Linked DNA regions of Homo sapiens: regions 1, 2, 4 and 5 are each linked to region 3. The links come from fine-mapping of genetic effects on gene expression. A gene starts in region 3. Each other region holds a variant in brackets. All regions are shown on one strand. Distances are between the middles of the regions. Region 1 overlaps PIBF1 (progesterone immunomodulatory binding factor 1). Region 2 overlaps PIBF1 (progesterone immunomodulatory binding factor 1). Region 3 holds the start of PIBF1 (progesterone immunomodulatory binding factor 1). Region 4 overlaps PIBF1 (progesterone immunomodulatory binding factor 1). Region 5 has its middle 32 kb from the start of MZT1.

Evidence for each region. PIP is the estimated chance that this variant, and not a neighbour inherited with it, causes the effect.
Region 1: its variant is the best candidate, but not a certain one, in a credible set for the expression of PIBF1 in whole blood (TOPMed, PIP 0.51).
Region 2: its variant is the best candidate, but not a certain one, in a credible set for the expression of PIBF1 in neural progenitor cells (Aygun 2021, PIP 0.54).
Region 4: its variant is the best candidate, but not a certain one, in a credible set for the expression of PIBF1 in whole blood (INTERVAL, PIP 0.57).
Region 5: its variant is the best candidate, but not a certain one, in a credible set for the expression of PIBF1 in whole blood (INTERVAL, PIP 0.83).

Annotation. Positions count from the first base shown.
Region 1 is chr13:72,993,634-72,998,742 of GRCh38, forward strand. All of the region lies in intron 16 of PIBF1 (progesterone immunomodulatory binding factor 1), which reads left to right. Among named protein-coding and RNA genes, the nearest start is that of KLF5, 63 kb to the right of the region's middle. The variant T/G (reference allele first, on the strand shown) is at 2,987.
Region 2 is chr13:72,824,540-72,829,648 of GRCh38, forward strand. It overlaps PIBF1 (progesterone immunomodulatory binding factor 1), which reads left to right. Exons shown (of 18, transcript NM_006346.4): 7 at 2,471-2,579; 8 at 3,194-3,375. Among named protein-coding and RNA genes, the nearest start is that of PIBF1, 45 kb to the left of the region's middle. The variant ATTT/A (reference allele first, on the strand shown) is at 2,699.
Region 3 is chr13:72,779,265-72,784,373 of GRCh38, forward strand. It overlaps PIBF1 (progesterone immunomodulatory binding factor 1), which reads left to right and starts at 2,869. Exons shown (of 18, transcript NM_006346.4): 1 at 2,869-3,085; 2 at 4,159-4,457. The coding sequence starts at 4,206. It overlaps DIS3 (DIS3 exosome endoribonuclease and 3''-5'' exoribonuclease), which reads right to left and starts at 2,636. Exons shown (of 21, transcript NM_014953.5): 1 at 2,341-2,636; 2 at 1,582-1,739. The coding sequence starts at 2,568. RefSeq lists enhancers at 1,828-2,742, 2,660-2,769 and a silencer at 2,330-2,379.
Region 4 is chr13:72,940,047-72,945,155 of GRCh38, forward strand. All of the region lies in intron 14 of PIBF1 (progesterone immunomodulatory binding factor 1), which reads left to right. Among named protein-coding and RNA genes, the nearest start is that of KLF5, 120 kb to the right of the region's middle. The variant T/TA (reference allele first, on the strand shown) is at 2,219.
Region 5 is chr13:72,692,791-72,697,899 of GRCh38, forward strand. No RefSeq gene overlaps it. Among named protein-coding and RNA genes, the nearest start is that of MZT1, 32 kb to the right of the region's middle. The variant C/T (reference allele first, on the strand shown) is at 2,157.

The DNA of each region.
Region 1 (5,109 bases), 210 kb after region 3:
TACTCGGGAGGCTGAGGCAGGGGAATGGCGTGAACCCAGGAGGCAGAGCTTGCAGTGAGCCAAGATCACGGCATTGCACTCTAGCCTGGGCGACAGAGCGAGACTCCATTTCAAAAAAAAAAAAAAAAAGAATCAGGATGGCATCAGAGTTTTCAGAAATTTGATTTTAGAAGACAGAGCAGTAATACCATGAAAGCATGTTTCTTTTACAGCACCAGCACCCTCTCAGAACATTAATAAATTGTATGCCATCAAATAACAAACAGAATGAGGGAGGAAGGAGTTCAAGACTAGCCTGGGTAACACAGTCTCTACAAAAAGTTAAAAAGTTAACTGGGGACAGTGGTAGGTGCATGTGGTGCCAGCGGCTCAGGAGGCTAAAGCAGTAGGATCCCTTGAGCCCCAGAGTGAAGGCACTGTGGTGAGCCATATTTGCACCACCGCACTACAGCCTGAGCAACAGAGCAAGAACCTGTCTCAAAAAAAAAAGAAAAAAAAAGGGAGAAAGGGAGGTAGAGGCCGGAGGCGGGGAAGGGAGAGAAAGAGAGGGAAGTGGAAGAAATAGTGGAACTTGCCAAAGTGTACAATAAAAAGAAATTTCAGTCTTAAAAGCAGTCAGTACAGAATTAATCTCAGCAAACAACACGATTAAGAAGCTAGATAATATTAGGTAATAAGGAAAAAGGCGTACATTGTTTCTATCAATGAGAAAACAAAAGGGCAGAAACTCTGAAAAGAGGGGAAAAAAATATTTGTTGGAAAGTTGAAGTACAAATAGGAACCTAAATCAATGGCATGATTTTTGAGCAGTAGATACAGTATAAGAAAAAGAATCCAGTCAAACTTAGTACTTAAAACATTCTTCTTTGAGCATCACAGTTTCCTTTTCTGTAGTCACATTCTCTGCAATAAACAATATTTACAAATAATGAGGCAATGCTGCAAATAAACCCACTGACCAATCAGAAAAATGATAGTTATAGAAGAGGAAAGTAGAATCAAAAGGCAGGGAGATGAGATGCCAAACTCAAATGCAAACAATGAGAGCGGAATCTGAAATACGAGATGAAGCCAATACCCAGAAGCCAGACACAGGATAAGAACCGAACCAGGTTAGAAGCAAAGCAGAGGGCTTCAAAATGATTTCATCTTACCAAAGGATTTCTCTTCGTAGTGACAAAAATGTTTTCTAATTATTGCCTGTTATGTTGGATTGTTTCCTGTTTGCTTTGTCAGTTTGTGAATTGGGATCTCATGAATCATGATCATTTCATTGTAATAGTAGCATCAACTAGGATAGGACAATTTATGTCAAAAAGGTCGGTGTAAGACATATTCAAATACTTTCATGGCTGTGAACACTTAATATAATAAAGAGGTTCTTGCGGACAGGTGCGGTGGCTCACACCTGTAATCCCAGCATTTTGGGAGGCTGAGGTGGGTGAATCATGAGGTCAGGAGTTCAAGACCAGCCTGGCCAAGATGGTGAAACCCCGTCTCTACTAAAAATAACAAAAAATTAGCCGGGCATGGTAGTGGGCACCTGTAATCCCAGCTACTTGGGAGACTGAAGCAGAGAATTGCTTGAACCTGGGAGGCAGAGGTTGCAGTGAGCCGAGATCACACCACTGCACTCCAACCTGGGCGACAGAATGAGACTCCGTCTCAAAAAAAAAAAAAAAAAGTTCTTTCTAATTTTGTTTTCCCTTCAGCATGATCCCACGCCTATCTCCAAGAATACAGCCAGAAAAATACATCATTCATTAAAGAGTAAAACATTAAAACAGTGCGACATGGGTGCATAAATAGACAGACTGTAGAAACAGAGTTTTAAAGTCCATAAATAAATAATATACTTACAGCAGTTTAGTACATTATAAAGATGGCATCAGTGGGGGAAAAAATGGTCTCTTCAGTACATGATGTTGTTATAGGAGAGCCATCTTGAGGGGACAGATGTTGTATTCATATGTTTTACCATAAGCCAGGATAAACTTTAAACCAATCAAAGATCTATATGTTTGAAAAAGAAAAGAGGCTGGGCACAGTGACTCACGCCTGTAATCCCAGCACTTTGGGAGGCCGAGGCGAGTGGATCACGAGGTCAGGACTTCAAGACCAGCCTGGCCAAGATGGTGAAACCCCGTCTCTATTAAAAATACAAAAATTAGCTGAGCGTGGTTGTGGGTGCTTGTAATCCTAGCTACTCTGGAGGCTGAGGCAGAGAATTGCTTGAACCTGGGAGGCGGAGATTGCAGTGAGCCGAGATCTTGCCACTGCACTCCAGCCTGGATGACAGAGCGAGACTCCATCTCAAAAAAAAAAAGAAAAGAAAAACCACAAAAGTAACTTAAGAAAATATAGGAAAAAAACATGGAGAAGACCACAGAAGAAAAGATTGACATATTCTGCTACATCACAATCAAATGTTCTTCATAACAAAAAAAAAAAAGCGGGGGGGGGGGGTCATAAACAAAGTCAAGTAAGAGGTAAACTGGAAAAATTGCCACTCATATTAAAGACAAAGGGCTAATTTCCCTAACATATAAAGAGCTCCTTGAAATGTATAAGAAAATGACCACTCAGTAGAAAAATGGGCCAAGGCAATCAACTGAAAAAAAACCTTCAATATATTAAAAAAAAAAAAAAACTGCTCAACTTCACTGTAAAAGGAATGCAAAATAAACATACACAAACCCTTATCAGACTGGCAAAAATCCTAAAAGGTAACAGAAGCTTACATTTTATCAATTATAAAACTAAAGCTCATTGAACTAGATTAGGCAGCCTAAGTTTAAACAATAATAATGTCAAGAATAGATGTGTCGTTTGCTAATAGCTTTATACTAAAATAGTACCACTACATGTGCTTAGCCAGGTGCAGTGGCTCATGCCTATAATCCCAGCACTTTGGGAGGCCAAGGCTGGAGAATCACTTAAGGCCAGGAGTGAGAGACCAGCCTGAGCAACATAGTAAGACCTCATC[T/G]CTACCAAAAATTTAAAAATTAGCTGGGTGTGGGGGAATGCCCCTGTAGTCCTAGCTACTCAGGAGGCTGAGGCGGTAGGATGGTTTGAATGAACTGTGATCACACCATAGCACTCTAGCATGGACAACAGAGCAAGACCCTGTCTCTAAAAAAAAAAAAATTGAAGTGGAATTTTCTTGGTTCAAATTTACCATCGATATAAGTTGGATCATTATATAAGCCAAACATAATAAAATTGAAAATGTGTTCTAAATGTTATTTGGGTACCCACTGTAGCTGTATTATCCTAATAAGAATTTTACAGAATTTTGCTGATCTTAAAGTGTTCTTTGCCTGGATTTCAGAAACTGCTAATATTTTTTGTACAGTCACATTAACGAAAGTGGTACTGTGACAACACCCCAAACTGGGGTGATCTTAGGATAAAGCAAAGATGTGAATTTCCCTTCTAATCTCCTGACCACTAAACCCCCCTTTACCTTATTTATCTGTAGAATAGTGCTAGATTGTTTTGGAGGGGATTTTTGCTCTTATTTTATCTTCATGCCAAAGATAGAAAAGTTGTGGCTAATAAAGAGATGTTCTTTCAGATAGAAAGTTTTTCTTTTCATAGGCTTTCCCTTCTACTTATCTTGGTAAGTAGAACAGGAGCTGAAATCTACCATAACACCATACCCATTTGACATCAAATCAATAATTATATACTTCACCATAGTGGAGCATATAAATGAAACAACATAATCTTGAAAGCAAAAAGAGTCCCCAAATGGCCCAGATAATCATATATCAGATTGGCAATGTCTGCAAGTATATGCATTCTCATGTACATTGGCCAAGCCAGGCCCACTACTGCAGAAAGGAGAAAGGATTCTGACACCATTTCTTCTGACACGTCTCGCAACCCTAAAATCTATTAAGGTTATATGGCTTAAACTCAGCAACACTGCTTTAAAATACTCACTCAAGTTAGATGGTTCTAAATAGAACTAATGACAGCCAGAAGAGAAAGGCCTGTAGGAACTTGCTGTGACACAGAGCTGGTGTCTATAAACAGATTAGTAGAAGAGAGCAGAACATTGTTCTATCACCATAACTTTCGTGTTTTGGCATGAAGATACAATAAGATAATAGGAAAAAATTACCTGTTACATAGCCTACCACTGTTCTGTTCTGATAAATAAAGATTAAGAAGAGTTTAGCCTGTCATCTCTCCATATACTTGTATATGATGTATCAATTTAGTAATTAATCATAAATACCCACTAGTGTTATGTACTAAAGATTTGTCTATGGATATGAAAGACAAATACACTTGGGAGCAAGAACGGGTGAAATTTTTGATCTCTTCAAAAAGTTCATCACAATTAATTCTTAGTTCAAAGGGCAACTGAAGCCAACCCCACTTATCATTTGTAAAAGGATAAGGGATAATACAGCTAAAGAAATCCTGAATCTGTATTAAACTTACTGTTTAACTGCTGACTAGTAGCCAAGATTGGATTCTTTTTCTCTACCATCTTTATATAAGAATTCAAAGGAAATGCGACAGTTTAAAAGAAGAAGAGAAAAAGTTAAATGCTTAAATAGTCTACTCAGCGAATATATGTGGAGCATCTACAGTGGAAGGTAGCTATGCCAGTGGTTCCCAAATTTGTCTGTCTATTAGAATCACTTGAGATCTTCAAAAATTCCAAAATACAAAAAAATTAGCTGGGCGTGGTGGCATGCGCCTGTAGTCCCAGCTACTCAGGCACTGAGGCAGGAGGATGGCTTGAGCCCAGGAGGTAGAGGCTGCAGTGAGCCGAGACCACACCACTGCACTCCAGCCTGGGTGACAGTGAGATCCTATCTAAAAAAAAAAAAAAATTCCAAAGCCCAGGCCACACCACATCAATTATCTCACAGTCTCTGGGGTTGGGACACAGTCATCACTGGCAATATTTGAAGCTCCACAGGTGATTTCAGTGTGCAGAAAAACGTGGAAACCACTAGACTATAGAATGTTGTAATTGTCAGTTATATTAAATGAGTATTAATGATCAAAAGATTCATGTGCATGATTCTAATTACTATTTTATTTTCACAACTTATGTGTGTAGTATAATTGTTTCTTCTACTTAAA
Region 2 (5,109 bases), 45 kb after region 3:
TTCAGTGGTAATAAATATATCCTTTTTGGGAAAGAGGATCTTTATGGTTGAAATCCAAGCAATAAATGTATATGCATGTAAGAATGACCATTTTGTAGCCGCATAATAATATTGATTCAGAATCATCATTGGAATATAAAACCATGAAGTATAAGTATGTTAGGGAATAGGATATTTACACAAAGCATCTCTTCACAATTACTTACTAATTTTAAAGGGCAAAAGGATACCTTTATAGTTAAACTCTGGCAGATGCTACCTTAACCTAGTGATCAAAGTTACTATCACCAATAATGGGATAAACTGACGTCACATACCTCAGTACATCTTCACATAACATACTGAGAATGCGTTTCTGTATCAGAGAATCATTTCTGAGAATCATTTCTGTAGTATTCCTGCCCAAGTGCCTAACCTGAATCTAATAATGAAGAAACTTCAGACAAGTGAAAATTGAGGAGCATTCTATGATGCAGCTAGCCTCTGCTCTATAAAAAGTCATAAAACACAAGGAAAACTAAGAAATCTTCAAGGTTAAAGGAGACTAAAACCCCATGACATCTAGATGCATGGTAATAGATTATAATATGATGATAATAGATCCTTGGATTACCATTATGGTAATAGAGCCTTGGCTCAGGGAAAAAAAAATTCACAAAGGGTGTTTTGGGAGACAGTTGACAAAATTTGAAAATGGATTGTATGTTAGATAATATTATATTAGGGCTAAGTCTCCTGAATATGATAATTATACTGTGATTATATAAGAGACTATCTTTAATCTTAGTAAATTCACACTAATTATTTAGGGATAAAGGGACCTAATGTCTCAGTTGAGGAAACAAATGCACATGTATGAGTATGTGTGTGTAGGTGTGTATACACATATAGATACATGACCCTTGACCAACATGGGGTCCACTTATATTCAGGTTTTTATCAACCTAACACCAATCGAAAATACAATTTTCACGGGATGTGAAACCTGAGTATACAGAGGACTGACTGTTTGGTGGGATCTGCAACAACTGCAGGACTTCAGCATGTACAGATTTGCATATTCAGGTTGTGGGGGTGGGTCTGGAACCCATTCTCCACATATACCGTTAAGACACCTGCATATATTCACATATATTAACAAGAGAGAGGGTTTGAATAAATATGACAAAGTAATATTTATTTAATATTACAAAACAAATACAACAGTGTTAATGATTGGTAAGTAAAAGCATTAAAAAGAACCAAGCTGGTTACAGCGTGTCATGTCTGTAATCCTAGTGCTTTCAGAAGCACAGGCAGGAGGATCACTTGAGCCCAGGACTTTAAGACTAGCCAGGGCAATATAGCAAGACCGTCTTTACAAAAAAAAAAAAAAAATTAAATTAGGCACATGGTGGCATGCACCTGTAGTCCTAACTCTCTGGCAGGCTGAGGCTGGAGGATCACTTGAGTGCAGTAGTTCAAGTCCAGTCTGGGTGACATAGCAAGACCCCCATCTCATAAAAAAAAAAAAAAATTTAAAAAAAAGATTTTTTAAAAAATTGCATGTGAAAGCACAAAATAAAATTTAAAAATTTTTTTAATTAAAAATAATCTAAACATTCTAAAAATAAAAAAGCACAAAATACGTATAGTAATATGTATCAGAATAGTAATACTGATAGTCATCTTTACTTATTGGGTTTGTAGGTGATTGTTATTTTGTGCTTTGCTCAGTTTTTCTTCAATAAACATAATATTTTGTTAACTAGAAGAAAAAAGGCTTTCTAAACGTTTTTGAAAAACTGATGCAAAGGAAAACAATTCCTAACAGCCCTCTCTGTGGAAATACCAGGTGGGTCAGTGAAATAAAGTGCAAAGGCACTGCTTCTGACTGCAGGGAAGTAGTTAAGAGTTAGTAAATCTGTTTCTCTGCTCATTTTAAAAAATGTGTGTTGTAGGTTTTAGTCCAATTCTTGGTATAACTTTTTTGGGGAACTTGTCTTAAAATGGAAATTAAAATCTGGGTAATCATAAACAATTTGTGAATGAAATAGTCACAAGAATGCCTGCCTACGTATCTACTATGCAATCTAAATGATAAGTTGTATTTTTTTTTTTACCTTAACTGAACTGAAAGCCTAGAGCCATGTATACATTCTTTAAAAGTTTTAACCTCAAGATAAGATTGAAGATGACTAATGAAAAAATACCAAATGTATGTTAGTAAGTTTTATTATTTACTGTACTGGCTTATGTAGTTTGTATATTCCTTAAAGGTAATAAATTGATATGTATGTATTTGAACAAGGTCTGAAACAGAGTCCCTTCTAAATCTGAAAAGTAGGTACTTTATAGTTCATGGAATTACACTGAAGCCCCATTGCTAGTGTCTCTATTCAGCGTCCTAATACATAGTCAACCCTTTTAAAGTGTACGCTGTACAAGGGGATGTAAAATTTACATGTCTCTTTGAATTTTATTTTAACAGTGAACGTGATGCACTTGAACAGGAAGTAATTGAGCTTAGGAGAAAACATGAAATACTTGAAGCCTCTCACATGATTCAAACAAAAGAACGAAGTGAATTATCAAAAGAGGTAAGCTTATAATTAGAGTCACTTATATTATATAGCATAGTATTAGTGAAAAAAATAGCCCAGAGTAGATTTGAAGGAGAGACATTTTTTTTGTTATGTAGTTCCTCCCAAAAAGATAA[ATTT/A]TTTTTTTTTTTTTTTTTTTTTTTTGAGACAGGAGTCTTTCCCTGTTGACCAGGCTATAGTGCAGTGGTGCGATCTTGGCTCACTGCAACTTCCGCCTCCCAGGTTCAAACGATTCTCCTGCCTCAGCCTCCTGAATAGCTGGGATTACAGGCGTGTGCCACCATGCCCTACTAATTTTTACATTTTTAGTAGAAACAGGGTTTCACCATGTTGGCCAGGCTGGTCGCAAACTCCTGACCTCAAATGATCCACCTGCCTTGGCCTCCCAAAGTGCTGGGATTACAGGTGTGAGCAACCATGCCCAGCCCCAAAAAGAGACTTTTAGTAGCTATTTTTAGATTTTAAAAAAGTTGCATGCTAAGAATTAGCCCTTTTTAAAAGGAAAATTTTCATGTGGTGAATGAAAACATGAAGGAAAGAAATTAATACAGTCAAGCTTGAAAAGTAAGATGGCATCACTGTGGATACTTTTTGTTTCTACATGTATGTAGGTAGTCACCTTAGAGCAAACTGTTACTTTACTGCAAAAGGATAAAGAATATCTTAATCGCCAAAACATGGAGCTTAGTGTTCGCTGTGCTCATGAAGAGGATCGCCTTGAAAGACTTCAAGCTCAACTGGAAGAAAGCAAAAAGGCTAGAGAAGAGATGTATGAAAAATATGTAGCATCCAGGCAAGATTTGCATTATTTCCCACGTAAATAGATACCAATTAACAGATTTTCTTTGAGGGAACTCTTGGCTTTGGGGAAGATTTAGTGATTTTTTTAAGGTCTATTCTATATGATAATACTAAGATAATACCTTATTTTATTTTATTTTATTTTATTTTTTGATTTTGACATTTCTGCTTTCTGTTTGCATACATTTAAGTGGTGTAATTTTCCCATGTGCCTTTATTTTAAAACTTTGTCATTTGGTTTTAGGTACGTTTCTTGAATACAGTAATGAGCTGATGTATCCATTAGGATAATTTGGGTTGCAAATAATGCAGAAGGGTTTAAAAAATGAAGTGAGATATGTTTGCTTTTTTTTTTTTTTTTTTATAAATTATACTTTACGTTCTGGGGTACATGTGCAGAATATGCAGTTTTGTTACATAGGTATACACATGCCATGGTGGTTTGCTGCACCCATCAACCCGTCACCTACATTAGATATTTCTCCTAATGTTATCCCTCCCCTAGCCCCCCACTCCCCGACAGGCGCCGGTGTGTGATGTTCCCCTCCCTGTGTCCACGTGTTCTCATTGTTCAACTCCCGCTTATGAGTGAGAACATACGGTGTTTGGTTTTCTGTTCTTGTGATAGTTTGCTGAGAATGATGGTTTCCAGCTTCATCCATGTCCCTGCAAAGGACATGAACTCATCCTTTTTAATGGCTGCATAGCATATATATTCCATGGTACATATGTGCCACATTTTCTCTATCCAGTCTGTTATTGAAGGACATTTGGGTCGGTTCCAAGTCTTTGCTATTGTGAACAGTGCTGCAGTAAACATACGTGTGCATGTGTCTTTTATGTTAGAATGATTTATAATCCTTTGGATATATACCCAGTAATGGGATTGCTGGGTCAAATGGTATTTCTAGTTCTAGATCCTTGAGGAATTGCCACACTGTCTTCCACAATGGTTGAACTAATTTACACTCCCACCAACACTGTAAAAGCATTCCTATTTCTCCACATCCTCTCCAGCTTGTTGTTTCCTGACTTTTTAATGATTGCCAGTCTAACTGGCGTGAGATGGTATCTCATTGTGGTTTTGATTTGCATTTCTTTAATGACCAGTGATGATGAGCATTTGTTCATATATCTGTTGGCTGCATAAATGTCTTCTTTTGAGAAGTGTCTATATCCTTTGCCCACTTTTTGATGGGGTTGTTTGGTTTTTTCTTGTAAATTTGTTTAAGTTCTTTGTAGATTCTGGATATTAGCCCTTTGTCAGATGGATAGATTGCAAAAATTTTCTCCTGTTCTGGAGTTTGCCTATCCACCCTAATGATAGTTTCTTTTGCTGTGCAGAAGCTCTTTAGTTTAATTAGATTCCATTTGTCAATTTTGGCTTTTGCTGCCATTGCTTTTGGTGTTTTAGACATGAAGTCTTTGCCCATGCCTACATCCTGAATGATATTGCCCAGGTTTTCTTGTAGGATTTTTATGATCCTAGGTCTTACATTTAAGTCTTTGATTCATCTTGAGTTGATTTTTGTATAAGGTATAAGGAAGGGGTCCAGTTTCAGTTTTCTGCATATGGCTACCTAGTTTTCCAAACAACATTTATTAAATAGGGAATCTTTTCCCCATTGCTTGTTTGTGTCAGGTTTGTCAAAGATCAGATGGTTGTAGATGTGTGGTGTTATTTCTGAGGCCTCTGTTCTGTTCCATTGGTCTATGTATCTGTTTT
Region 3 (5,109 bases):
ATGTACCACCATAACCAGCTAATTTTTGTATTTTTAAGAGACAGGGATTTTCCAGGTTGGCTAAGCTGGTCTGGAACTCCTGGCCTCAAGTGATCTGCCCACCTCAACCTCCCAAAGTGCCAGGATTACAGACATAAGCCACCACGCCCAGCTGCTAATGTTTTAAGCTCATCAGTGAAAGACACAGTCATAAATTTTTGAATTGGTTTTAAACTTGGGTCTTTCTGCACTGAAAAACAAGTGATGTTGCTATTTCTGGATTTCAAGGAGGTACTAACAATAAGAAGCCTACAAGGGCTTTACTGGTATTCTTTACAAGAACATTGAAGTTTGAGATATAAGAATCAAGAAAGTTGAGATATTAAGGTTTTTAAAAATGTGCATAATCTGATGGAATTTCATTACCAGAAGTCTACACTCTAATCCAATGGTTCTCAATTGAGTGAATTCACCCCTCAGGGCATTTTGTATCATTACAACTGAGTGGTGGTGGTGGTGGTGGTGGTGGGGGGGGTAAGGGGTGGTGATCCTGCCAAATAGGCTAGGAACACTGTTAAACATACTACAATGTATAAAACAGCCTTTCCACCACAAAAAAATTATTCAGTTCAAAATATCTATAATGCCAAGATTGAGAAGCCCTGATCTAATCCAATAAAAGTACCATACTCATCATAGATTATTTATGTAATATAACGTAATAGGCAATATCATATTTTTGAGACCACACACTGAGTTCAAAGGTCTTGAATCTAAAAGCACAACAAAGAATTATATTCCTGGCCAGGCACGGTAGCTCATGCCTGTAATCCCACCACTTTGAGAGGCTGAGGCAGGTGGATCACGAGGTCAGGAATTCGAGACCAGCCTGACCAACATGGTGAAACCCTGTCTCTACTAAAAATACAAAAATTAGCCTGGCATAGTGGTGCGTGACTGTAATCCCAGCTACTCAGGAGGCTGAGGCAGAAGAATCGCTTGAACTTGGGAGGTGGAGGTTGCAGTGAGCAGAGATCACACCACTGCACTCCAGCCTGGGTGACAGAGTGAGACTCCATCTCAAAAAAAAAAAAAAAAAAAAAAAAAGAATTCTATTCCTTAACCTAATCTTGCTCAATGTAATCAGCTGCAAAGTATTAAACTTTTAAAAAGACCATTAAGAATAAATCTACTTTCTATTTTTAAACAAAATAGAAACTTCACAAACTCATATATTTTATTACCCTCTGTTAGTTGTTCACATAATATGGTATTCCAGGAACTTAAGCAAATCTCATCTTCCAAGATTCTATGGTCCAACTCATGCTAAAACCAATTCAAAATGAAAACATTTTGGAAATTAAAGTACCTATTGTAGTCTAGGAGTCAGCAGACCTTGGTTTTAGGCTTGAGCCCATCAATGCCTGTGTGACCTTAGAGAGATCCACTTAGCATTATCTTCTGCACAGCCATGTAAGAATTAAATAAGGTATGAAATCTATCACTTATCTTCTGACAATGTCATAAATTACTCACAGGAACCCTCTCCCGAATTTTGCTAATCCTGTGGTTTTCTGATATTTAACGTAATATTCCTCCTACCTATGGTGCTCATTAGTGAAAGTATAGAAATGCTTCTCTTGGTTATTAGTCACATCTCGGATGCGTTTATATACGGGGGCACTGCGATTTCTCACTTCTTGAAGAACTGTTTGTAGCACAATTACATTCCTGATGGCAGGGTCCTCAAGAACATCAATCTTAAAGAAAGATAAAGTTAATTTTTCCTATATTCATTTGTAAATAGCTCTGTCAAACATAAAATCCTGTTTTATGTTGGGCATAAATACTTTATGTTTTAAAAACACTGAATAAGTTAAGCCAAGAAGCTATTTGGCTATAGAAAACGAGACAATAGTCACTAAACCCTTCAGATCTATTAAAAAAAGCACACTTAAACAGACCAATCACAAGACTTCGTAGAATTAAGGGTATTAATAAAGGAATACGTTGGCCCACATAGTTTTTTGTTCCTAGGCACTTACAAGCTGCCTGGGAGTCGCAGGCTGGAGGCCACAGAAGCCCAGGTCCCCGGCCTCCAGGCACTTACAATCTAAGGCAGAAGAGACACCAGGAGTTAGAAAAATAACGTGTCTGAACTACGACTCCAAGAACTAAATTTTTTAAAGCACAAGGAAAAGAACCTCGGCCTGGGGAACAGGAAGCTTCGGTCCCGAGGGGGTTTCCCTTTCGCTAGGTATGTGACACTGCCAAAGACCCGCCTCCCTGGGCCTCAGTTTCCCTGTCATACCCCCTTGTCCCCGTGGGGCCGCGCTGTCCGCGGTTCGCCCGCCCACGCACCTGGTGCAGTAACACATTAGTGTCGGGCAGCAAGTAGTGCGGTTGCGGGCAGACGCTGCTCGCCGGGTCCTGGGGCTGCGGCTCCAGGGCCGGCCCCTCGTGCGCCCCTCCACACGCTGCGCACCCGGGCGCACCGCAGCCGATGTCGTCTCGCAGGTAGTGCTCGCGCACGATCTTCATCACGCCGCCCGCCCGGGTCTTTTTTAAGAACGTCTTGGACTTGAGCATCTTGCCTCGCCGCGCAGAATCCTAACCCCAGCAGCGCTCTTCCAGCAAAAGGCGTCAATCTAGAATACGCCTAACCCCGGAGGTTCTTCCCTTTCCATTCCCGGATATTAGTAACACTTCTCGCGGGAAAATGCCGAGATAAACATTGGTTGGCTCTCTGACGGCCGCGGGGATTGGGCGAGAGTGGGGAGGGGCGGCAAAGCAAGGCGAGGAGCCATTTCCGCCCGTGGCCTAGGCGGGGCTTCCTTCTGGACGCCACCTCACAACGTGTGTTGCTTTCCGCTCCTCGGAACATCCGGGAGAGTTGACTTCCGGCGGCTTGTGGGAGTGCTGGTTCTGTCCTCCTTGCGGGTGCGGAGATGGTTGTCTTGGTTACGGGTCCTAACGGTCCCCTGCCTTGAAATCCCTTGTTGAGGGCCTGCAACCTTGTGCTTCCGACCGGAGACGCCTTTGGTCCCTCGGTGTCTGCACTGGCTGCTGGTCAAGGCTTCAGTGTGGAGTAATTGACACTTTCGAGGTAACTTGCGACTATCATCGCTTTCTTTCCCGCGTGGGGCAAGGAATCCCCCGAGCTGCCAAGTTTGGGGCTTAATTTTCACGCCGAGTGTATAGGCAGTCCCCGTCTCGGGCCCTTTGTAATCGAGGAGAGAATTTGTCTTTGAATTCACTTTTTCTTACCTATTTCCCTTCAAAAAGAAGGAGGGAGGCCGATCTTAGTATAGTTCTCGCTGTTTCCCCTCCACACACCTTTCCTTATCATTCAGTTTAGAAAAACTGAAATATTTAATAGCATAATTTGTTATATCATGAGGTATTAAAACAAGGTAGTTGCTAACATTCTTATGAGAGAGTTAGAAGTAAGTTCTATTTAGAATTTCTTGAATTTTTCTTATATCCTGTTGTTTTCATTCTGCTATCTATAAAAAATGTTTTTGTCCCCGTTTTCCCTATTTAAAACATCTTCAATGATGCCTCATTGCCTGTAGAATAAAATCCAACCCTATTTTGACATTTAAGGCCTTCCAGTCTTGATCGTTAAGGGCGTGTGTGTGTGTGTGTGTGTGTGTGTGTGTGTTTGTGTTTGTGTTGGGGGGGCGGTGAAAGGAGTAACTATTCCAAGACTTGGCTTTGTTTTTTTACTTCCACTTACGTATCATTAATAACTGCATGATTTCTCCTTTTTACCATGCCTGTCCAAATCTTTAAAGATTCTAAGTGCTACCTCTGTGTAACGTTTCCCTGACCAACTCAGACGTGATTTCTGTTATCTTTGAGCATGTGTTGGTTTTAGTGGTGCCATTCTTGATTATAATGGGCTTTTTTCTTCATCTTGTACATTTCTTTGTTTCCTCCAAGTAAGATTCCTCCCCGCAGGAACTGTTTTTTTAAGTTTCTCGAAGGCTGACTTCATATTAGGAATTAATGTGTTTGATTTGAGCATTAACTTAACTGCAATAATCTGTTCTAGATTTGGGATGCACTAAATTGCCTAATATTTATTTAAGGAATCCTTAGTCTCTCTTTAATACAGTCCATGATTTCTGTAGTTAATTTTATAGTACATTTGAATTAATGTTTTTTAACCTACAGAATATTAAAATCAAATTAGAGAAGAAAACTGATCCATAATAATAAAAATGTCTCGAAAAATTTCAAAGGAGTCAAAAAAAGTGAACATCTCTAGTTCTCTGGAATCTGAAGATATTAGTTTAGAAACAACAGTTCCTACGGATGATATTTCCTCATCAGAAGAGCGAGAGGGCAAAGTCAGAATCACCAGGCAGCTAATTGAACGAAAAGAACTACTTCATAATATTCAGTTACTAAAAATTGAGCTATCCCAGAAAACTATGATGATCGACAATTTGAAAGTGGATTATCTTACAAAGGTAAGATCAGGTTTAAATTTTGTGTTCTATATGCTTTATTGTCTTCAAACGGCAGGTAAATAAGAATTAAATACACACATTATCTGAACTTGAAATGATACATTTATATTTCTTGACAAGTACAGCCTTTAAATAATTTTGGTGTTCATAGAAGTAGAGAATAGAATGGTGGTTACCAAGGGCTGGCATGGTTAGGGGTGAAGGAGGGTTGGGGAGATGTTGGTCAAAGGATACATAATTACAGTTGAATAGGAGGAATACATTCAAGAGATCTATTGGACAGCATGGTGGCTATAGTTAATGACATTGTAATCTTGGAAAACATTGTGTTTTTGAAAAACACAGCAGATGTTAAGTGTTCTCATTACTAAAATAACTATGTGAGGTAAAACATTTTTTAATTAGCTAGAGTTAACCATTTCACAATGTACGTATACTTCAAAACATTATGTTGTACATGACATATACACACAGTTTTATCTGTCAGTTGGGATCACCTGAGGTCAGGAGTTTGAGACCAACCTGGCCAACATTGTGAAACCCCAGCTCTACTTAAAAAAAAAAAAAAAAAAAAATTAGCCAGCCATGATGGTGGGTGCCTGTAATCCCAGCTGCTCGGGAGGCTGAGGCAGGAGAATTGCTTGAACCCAGG
Region 4 (5,109 bases), 160 kb after region 3:
TGTTGAACATCTTACATATGTGAGTTTATCAAATTTATAAATTTCTTAAATTTTTAAATACTTCAATCCTCTCACCTTCCTTTGAGGACTTCAATGAGATATATATTAGGTTGCTTAAAGTTATTCTACAACAGAACAAATGATGTTCTCTTCAGTTTTTTTCAGTCTTTTTTCTGCTTTTCTTTTGAATAGCTTCTTTTACTGTGTCTTCCAGTTCACTAATCTTTTTTTCACCACTGTATAATCTGCTTTCAGTTCAATCCAGTTTTTATCTCAGATATTGTAGTTTTCATTTCTAGAAGTTCAAATTGGATCTTCTTTGTGTCTTTTAGGTCTCTCCTTAACATTCTCAAACTTTATTTTCTGGAATATGTGAAATATAATTTCAATAACTTTTTTATATTCTTGCCTACTAATTCTATTATTTTGTCATTTCATGGCTGCCTTCAATAAATTTGAATTTTCTCATTATATATCACATTGTTCAGCTTCTTTGCATATGTAGTAATTATTTACTGGATGCCAGACCTTGTAAATTTTACCTTGATGCTATATATTTTGTATTCCTATATGTTTTTGTTAGCTTTGTTCTGGGACATAGTTAGGTTTCTTGGAAACAGTTTGATTCTTCCAAATCTTGCTTTTAAGCTTTTTTAGGCAGAGAAGGGTTTATCGTAAGGCCAATTTCTCCCCCATTACTACAACCAAACTCTTTGAGTATTCCATGTCCTGTAAATTGTAAGGTTTTCTACTTTGGCTGATGGAAATAAGCACTATGCCTTGCCCATGTTCACTTCAGAGATTGCTCCTACCAATCTTGTCTGTAGTTCTGTCTCCTGTCTTTATACATATGCACTGTTCTGTGCCAGGTAAATACTTAAGGGGCACTATCTGTAAATTGTCAGAGTTCTGTCTCTTTGCAGCTCCCTTTTCTTCAGTAGTCTCCCATATGAACTGTAACCACCTTGGTTATTACTTCTATCAACAGCTCCTTAACTCAGGGAATTTGACAGGCTCTGCCTTAATTCTCCTTCCCAGCACCACAGCTTGAAAGCTGTCTCTAGTCAATAAACTAAGGCAGTCATAGAGTTTACCTTGTTTGTTTCCTGTGTGTCAGGGATCTCCTTCATTGCATGATGTCCAATGTCTTTCGACCGTTGTTTTATTAGTTGGTCCAGTATAACAGAGAAAACAAGTTATTCTTTTTTGTGTATTTGTGTATACCCACTAATTCTCAAGAAACTGCCAAGTTTAGTTAAGAGTCAAGTGTCAGTGTGGAGTTTGTTAAACAGTAGAAAATCCAGAATCATAAAGTGTGCCACATTACTGCCAACAGTAAGGCAGCTAAGAATTGGTCTTTCTTAGCTGCCTCAAACCTTGATATATGCTCTCCTTCTAGTTATTCAGTAAATATTTATCAATTTCCCACTATATTCAACAACTGATGACAAAATAGACATGGTTTTTCACTTCTAACATAACCAACCTTATTCACAAAGGCCTTATTTTCTACTGTAAGCACGCAGAGATTTATCTTTTACAACTGACTTAATTTCAGGAAGCTTGTCTAGAAAGTGGGACATGCACAGTCATCAGTAACCACATGGCAAGGTTTAGCTACCTGGAATTTTGTACCTAGAAGGCATTGCTAGATTTGAAAGAGGCGTCAAGGTGCATAGGTAAAATAAAGTAGACCTATATGTATTAACTTTGAAAGAAATTTATACTGTATTGATGATTTTTCAAAAAACAAATTGCAGAATAATTTCTGTTTCTCTGTTTGGGTTTTAATATATTTGTGTGTGTGCATGTACCCAGCATATACAGAGAGGATGGGATTGTGTTTCTGTTTAAACATACAGAAAATGAAAAAAATCTGAAAATATGTCATGCAAAGGGGACACAAATACCACTAGTCATGGATTAGCAATATGAAATGAGCTTTATTGGTATAAAGTAAGTACTTGAAGTAATAAAACATTTATCTCTGCCCCTTGAGTTGCCTGACCCATTCTTCTGCCTCTAACAACTGCTAGGAGTGTTCTTCCAGCATCCCCAGTGAGCTCAGTCTCTTGGAAAGAGTCTGTGGCACATACAACTCACAGGACCACACCTCAACATTATAAAGGAGGAGACTCACATACCTACCATGTGGCCCTAAACAATCTAGATCTGATTAAATTTCAAGGTCAACCATATTTCTAAGACTTCAATGATG[T/TA]AAAAAAAAAAAAAAAAAACCCACTGTTTTGTGTACCACTGTGAGGAAGAGTGGAGGATGCTGCTGATTAAACTGTGATACAATGCTTTGCTATTACTTTAATTTTTTTCATTTTAGACATACTTTCTTTTAGACTTTAGGCAGTGATTTTTGTCCTATATTGCACAACTCTGTTTCTGTGTTTTTCTTCTGTTTCAATGCCGAATCCCTTGTGATCTTTTTAGATACTTAAATGACAATTGTACTCAGCCTATGAAGGACTAGCCATACTCAAAACTCAATTGAAGTAATAATATGAACAGCCAAGACCAATTTTTTCATGCATGGGCTTTATCAACAGCAATTATAAGATGTATGCTATTTTCATAGAAGAGATTAAAAACAGTATGATTTATAGGGTTCCTTTGCCTTTCAAAATGTTTGTCTGTTTGTTGATATTAAAAATCCTTTAGTAGGCTGGGCACAGTGGGTCACACCTGTAATCCCAGCACTTTGGGAGGTCAAGGCAGGCAGATAACTTGAGGCCAGGAGTTCGAGACCTGCCTGACCAACATGATGAAACCCTGTCTCTACTAAAAATACAAAAATCATCCGGGTGTGGTGGTGTGCACATATAGTCCCAGCTACTTGGGAGTCTGAGGCAAGAGAATTGCTTGAGCCTGGGAGGCAGAGGTTGCAGTGAGCCAAGATTGTGTCACTGCACTCCAGCCCAGGTGACAGAGCAAGACTCTGTCTCAAAAAAAGAAAAATATCGTTTAGTAAAGAACAGTGGCATTTATTTCATTACTAGAAATACAAGGCTTAAAAAATAACACTTAGATGAGATACTACATTGCCTGAATTTTTTTTTAATTTAGCAAGTGAACTTTAATTCATCAGCCTATCAAAAGTCTTTACCTTACTAGAATAATAGTAGAATAATAGTCACCAGAACCTGGGAAGGTGAAGATGGGGAATGAAGAGAGGGTGGTTAATGGATGCAAACATAAAGTTAGATAGAAGGAATGAGTTGTAGTGTTTAATTGCACAATAGGATGACTGTAGTTTACAATAATTTATTGTATATTTCAAAATAGCTAGAAGATTTGAAATGTTCCTAATACAAAGAAATGACAAATGTTTAAGGTTATTGATGTCCTAAATATCCCTATTTGATTTTCACATATGCATGTATCAAAATATCACATATACCCTATGCATATAATTATGTATCAATTTAAAAATTAATAATTTTTTAAAAGTTCCCTATCCAAAACTGTCCTCTGTGCTGTCAATCATGACTTATTTTTAAAGGCCCATGGCCTACAAGACAATGTCCAGATTCTTTAGCGTGGCATAGATGGCCAATTTGATTCTAATCTACTTCTCATCCTCATCTTCTGTCATCTCCCCTCTTCCCAAATCTTCACTTGCTGTCTCCTCCCACCACTTTGTTACCTTCGTACTCCTCAGTCTCCTTTGTTGACTTCTTTTTCTCTGATTATGTCTTAAGTGTTGACATGCCCCAGGGTTCTACCTTGTTTGTTTAGGGGAAAAGGGGAAAAAGCCAAGAACTTTCAAGTTAGGCAGACTGGTTATATGACTTTAGGCAAGTTATCTTTTTGTAAGCCTCAGTTTTCCAAAGTGTAAGTGGAAATAATAATACTATATTGCATGTTTGCTCCAAAATGAGAGAGGGTTCAATCTAAGATGAGCACTTAGCACACTAACTGGCATATGTTAATCACTCGGTAAATGTAGGATCTTATTTCTGTTCTAGAGTTTCATTTATTTTTCTCTTGCTGGCCATAATATTAATAAAATAAGTATTTTTCTTGTAAATCTGGCAATTTTTAAAGGAAATAATAGGTCCAGAATTGGAGTAAATAATGATTTTGCCTATATAGGAGTATTCAGAATAAGCCGGGTGTGGTGGCTAATGCCTGTAATCCCAGCACTTTGGGAGGCTGAGGCGGGGTGATCACCTGAGGTCAGGAGTTGAAGACCAGCCTGGCCAACATGGTGAAACCCTGTCTCTACTGAAAATACAAAAATTAGCTGGGCGTGGTTGTGGGCACCTGTAATCCCAGCTACTTGGGAGACTGAGGCATGAGAATCGGTTGAACCCAGGAGGCAGAGGTTGTAGTGAGCTGAGATTGCACCACCGCAGGACTCTAGCCTAGGTGACAGAGCAAGACTGTCTAAAAAAAAAAAAAGAAGAAAAAGAAGTATTCAGAATAAACAATAAAATCAATTTTAACACAATAGCAAAATGTTTAATAATAATTTAAATAATTTCTGCTCTTATCAAATGCAGAAGTGTATTTAATTGCATACAAACTAAGCATTTTAGGAGAAAAGTGAAAAGCTGCATTTTTGTTTTATTTTTTTTAATTAAGACAAGTATTCATTGATGAATAGTGTTTATATGATCAAAACATAAACAGTGAATGTTCTTGTTTTTTAATTTCAACTTTTATTTTAGATTCAGGGGTACATGGGCAGGTTTATTATCTGGGTTTTTTGTTGGTTGGTTTTTTTGAGATGGAGTCTTACTCTCTTGCCCAGGCTGGAGTGCAGTGGCATAATCTCGGTTCACTGCAACCTCTGCCTCCCTGGTTCAAGCGATTCTCCTGCCTCAGCCTCCTGAGTAGCTGGAATTACAGGCTCCTGCTACAGTGCCCGGCTGATTTTTGTATTTCTCTGGGTATATTATGTGATGGTAAGGTTTGGAGTTTAATTGCTACTGTCACCCAGGTAGTGAGCATCATACCCAATAGTTTTTCAACCCTTGGCCCCCTCTCCCTCTCCCCATTGCTAGTTCCCAGAGTCTGTTGTTCCCATCTTTATGTCCATATGTATGCAATGTTTAGTTCCCACTTATAAGTAAAAATATGGAGTATTTGGCTTTC
Region 5 (5,109 bases), 86 kb before region 3:
ATGTGGGAGCAAAGAAATGACTTAAAGTTGGAATTTATAGTTAAACAGAAAGCAGAGCATAAAAGCTTAGAAAATTTGCAGCCTGGTCACATGGCAGATAAAGAAAAAGCTTTCTGGGGAGAGGAATTCAAGCTGGCTGTGAAGCAAGTACTTGCTACAGAAATCTGCATAACTAAAAGAGAGCCAACTGCTAATAGCCAAGAGAATGGGGAAAATGTCTGGAAGGCATTTTGGAGATTTAAGTGGCAGCCCCTCCCATCACAGGCCCTGAGGTCTAGGAGGAAAGAATGGTTTTGTGGGCCAGACCCAGGGCCTCACTGCCCTGCGCAGCCTTGGGAAATTGCTCCCTGCATCCTGACCCCTTGGCTCGATTTGTGGCTCAAAGTTCCCGGATACAGCTCAGGCTGCTGCTTCAGAGGGTGTGAGCTCTTCGCCTTGACGGCTTCCATGTGATGTTAAGTCTGTAGGCATACAGTGCAAGACTGAATGAGGCTTGGCAGCCTCCATGTACATTTCAGAAGATGTATGAAAAAGGCTAGGTGCCCAAGCAGAAGCCTGCTGCAGGGGCACAGCCCTCATAGAGAACCTCCACTAGGGCACTGTGGAGGGGAAATGGAGACCCCACACAGAATGTTATCTTGTTTTATATTATTCTTGTACATGTCCTGTCTTAGACCTTAGATGATACCTTTCTTTTTTTTCCTTTTCTTTTTATTTTCTTTTTTTTTTTTTTTTGGAAACAGTGTCTTCCTCTGTCACCCAGGCTGGAGTGCAGTGGGGTTATCTCAGCTCACTGCAGCCTCCACCTCCTGGGTTCAAGCAATTCTCATGCCTCAGCCTCCCAAGTAGCTGGGGTTATAGGCACGTGCCACCACAGTTGGCTAATTTTTGTATTTTTAGTAAAGACAGGGTTTCACCATGTTGGCCAGGCTGGTCTCGAATTCCTGGCCTCAAGTGATCCGCCTGCCTCAGCCTCCCAAAGTGCTAAGATTACAGGCATGAGCCACTGCATCTGGCCTAAATTTCTTGATGGTAATAATGTTCTTATTTACAGATGTAGTGAACGTATTAATGAACACCTACTGTGAGCCATTATTATTTTTATTCATATTAACATCACACAACAAAATCACACAACTAGTCATCCTGGTGGAGCCAGGGCTATTATCTAGGCAGTTCGACTCCAGAAACCTGGCTCCAAACCACTACCTTATGCTGCCCTCTCATGTGTGGGCGCTCAACAAGTACTTGTTGAATAAGTGAAATTTAACCCAGGCAAGCTGGGTTAGTATTTCTGAGCTAAACACAGTTTCTCAGAAGACCACACAAGTGTTTAAGAGGTCACGAGAAATGACTGGCTAACCATAAAAAAAACAAAAACAAAAACAAAAAAACACGACAGAACCCCAAACTGAGACTCCAAGTTAGAAGGCTTGTCTAGCGCACCAGTTTTCATGCACCTGGTTGGCTAAGAGGGAAATCTTAGATGATGAATGGAGGGGAACACACAAAAAAAAGTGGGATCCAAAGCAATGGGCAGTTTTCCACATCATTATAGCCGTATTTTGTAACAATTTCTTTGGCAACTGACAGCAGGCATTTAAATCAGCTATTTCCTCCTCAGAATTCCTCTCCAAAGAATAATAATGGCCTCTGCAGCTCTGAAGGAAATGTAGCCCCTACTCGGATACAATCTTATCTGGGAAATTGCCGTGGTATTCGTCACAGCTGTCACTGCTCTGAGCCCATTAAAGATGTGCTGAGTGTAGATCCACAGGGTCCTGTGCTCGGAGGAGCCCTGCTACACATTCTTCCCAGGTTTCAGCAGAAAGACAAAAACCACTCGGTGTGCTGGGGGCAGAGTCTCCTCAGAGCTGGGTCAGCACGAGAGAGCCATTCGTACAGTCCTAAAGAAGTTACTCTATGGCTCGGGTTATAGATATAGAAAGACACTTGCAGTGACACCATTGAGATGGGCAGAACACAAGAAAGAATTTATGCAAAAAGCCCAGATTTTTATTTCTTTATTTGGAGAGCAAAAGGAGAGCTGAAGACCTAAAACATTGGGGTGAGGGCGTCGGCCTTGAGACTTTGCACCAGAGTTCTTCTCAGTTTGTTTTAGTTGAATAGTGAGCTGCTTCAACCTCTATTCTTTA[C/T]AGTAAAAAGCTGAAAGTCTAATCCTTGATGATATGTCATTTAAGAAACTGGAGCACAGACTGACTGGGGTCCCACATTTAGCATCCAGTAGGACCTGAGGTGCCAGAAGTAAGACCAATAGGACTTTCTAAAATTTGGTTCTGCAAGGAAATAATGCTTCTGCAAATCCAATGTAATGTTTCTTCATACAAAGTACCCCAGATCAGATTCTCTTTCATTCTAACATTTATATTTGTTTTTAACCCACAGTTGCCTTTACAAAGAAACAGGCATGAAAAATAGCCTTCCACTCAATATGCCAAGGAAGATAATTTACTCAGAAATTACATTGTCCTGGAAACTAATTTACTGCACAGCTTAAATGTGAGCAGCTTATTCCCAGAAAGTTATTGACTCACCTTGACTCAAAATAAGATCAAGTATCTTTGCCATCCACAGCACAGAGTTTTCTAAGCCAGAGACCCCAGGACTGTGTATAACTTACTCTCTAAGATAGCAAGCCACTTGGAAGTCACTACGGATGTGCTTTACATCCACCCTTCTCAGAACACAAGACCCTCCCTAGATCCCTGAGGATTGTGGGCATTCCTAGCACACTCCAGAGTTTTACTTTTTTGTTTTGTTGGTGAGGAGGCAGTTATGCAAAGGTGGGAGAGAAGTGAGCTCGGGTAACACCACCACCATGATAACTGTCATGAAATTTCATCAATTCTTTCACTGCTTTCTGTTTGCTCACCCCTCCCCGACTCTCTCTGTTGTACTTTCATTGTAAGAGAAGAAGCCATGTCTCTGTTCCCACCACCATTCCTGACCTGGAGCGAACATTCAACAAACGTTTGTGGACTGAATGAATGATGGGACTTTACTCCATTTCATCACTTCCCATTTTCCATTCTCTATTTTTCCTCCTTTTTTGCTGATGGTTCACTCTTTATTTTTTTGGAAAGCCAGTTCTAAGATAAACAGTAGCAAAAGCAATAGCTGAAATAAAGACAAAAGACTTAGTTTCTTTGAACTGTTTTTATTTTACAATTTGATATTACATTATTAAATTATGTTACTGTTTCCTAACACATTTTCCTTTGTGTAACTCACTTATCACCATTTGGCTCCTTGTAGGTGCATAAAATAATTTTCTCTTTGATTGTAATGAACTAGAGTAAGGGTACAACTGTCTATGCAGCTCTACTCAAGTGCCTAGTAAAGTAGTGTAATCACAAATGTCTCTGAAGAATGACTGTAGATAAATGACAATGGCACACAAATACAATGGAAAAAAGCACATTAGAATTACTGGCATGCTAAGAAAAGCTATATACTGTATTTAACTTTTGTGCTATATTTACCTAGTCCTCACAGCTTTTATCTTTTTTTTTTAAGAGAACATTTTGAGTTTACAGCCGTGATTTTATCACTTTTTAAACTTATATTATTATCCCTACCTGCACTATATCATAATTAAGTATACTTCATTTGTACCCCCAATTAAATCCATGTGTAACATAAAAAATTACTCTGTATTAATTTTAAGTATATTGAATGCTGCCTTTTATGTAAAGGTCTGCATTAAAAGAGAGTATAGTAGTATTCTAAAGCCAATGAAACTCCATCATTTATATCTTAATTGAGATGTTTGGACATAGATGTACTTATATAAACACAAACTAATTTAAAGTTTTCTTTTTAATTTTAAGCTTAATATGATTAAATTAGTTATGGAATAATCAGTTGTACTATAATCATATTGTACTGTTCAAACTGAATGAAATATACCTCCCTTTATTTAAAAAAGTCTGCAGAATTGATTAAATAGATGACAATGTAATTTCCATTACAAGTGCTTTTTCTGCCATCTAGTGGAAAAATGAAATCCATGAGGATTCATAATTTATATGTTTTAATTCTATTGTCTTTTAAACTATTTAGGAAAGGCTTATTGGAAATCTCAAGAAAAGAAAACAAAACGTTGCATTCCCTCCCTATTTCTGATTTGGTCTGCAGGTAGACCAGCTGTGGATCACCTTAAGCATTCCTCATGTTGCCAAAGAAACTAAATACAGAAAAAGGTAGAGGGAACTCTCTTAATTAATTAGTTGGGGGGAGGTGAGTTGTTTATTTTTAAAGACTATCCATTTGCCCAAGCTTTTTCAAGGGCTGCCTTACTGTCTGGTTTTTGCTTGTGGAAGTATTTTTCTTAACCATTTAAATACCAGCTCAAAGGCAATTCCCTTGCAAAAAACTTGCTTGGTTCCTGGTGGAATGAACTCCCATGGCTTGCTAACTATAACTCCAGTTCCTGTTCAATGATTACACCATCCTGCCAAGTTCTATGTTGTAATTCGGTGAGTCTGTCTCACTTGATTGTGAACATCTTGAGGACAGGGAACATGTGCTGTTCATCTGTCTAGTCTGTGGTACTATTCCAGACAATGAATATATGAACACACTTGCTGCATGTATCATTTTAAATATGTAGAACTGGAGCCTACTAAAAGCCATTTCTAATATAGGGCAGCCAGGTCTTACATGGGCTATTCTGGGGTATATACATAGATTTCAGAGCTGGGATTTGACTAAACTTCCTAGCTCGGATTATTGATTCATTTTATCAACCCTTTTTTTTCCCCAGCATGTACTAGGTAAAATATGCTGCTGACAATTCCAAGAAGTGGAAAAGCTAGCTGCCATCCTTATGTATGAAGGCCCTGTTGGGTGCCTTTCTCTCTGTGTTCCTGGAATGATCTGTACTTTCTTCTATCATAGTGCTTATTCCTGTACTGCATGTATTGTCTCCATGAACTCCTTGAGGATGAGAAGACTGTCTTATCCATTTGTATTTTCAGCAACTAATATACTGTCTGCATATAGCAGAGGCTGAGTAAATATTTGTTGAATAAAGAATCATGAAAGATACAAAGAATTGCAAAGGATAAAAAAGAAGTATTAGATAGT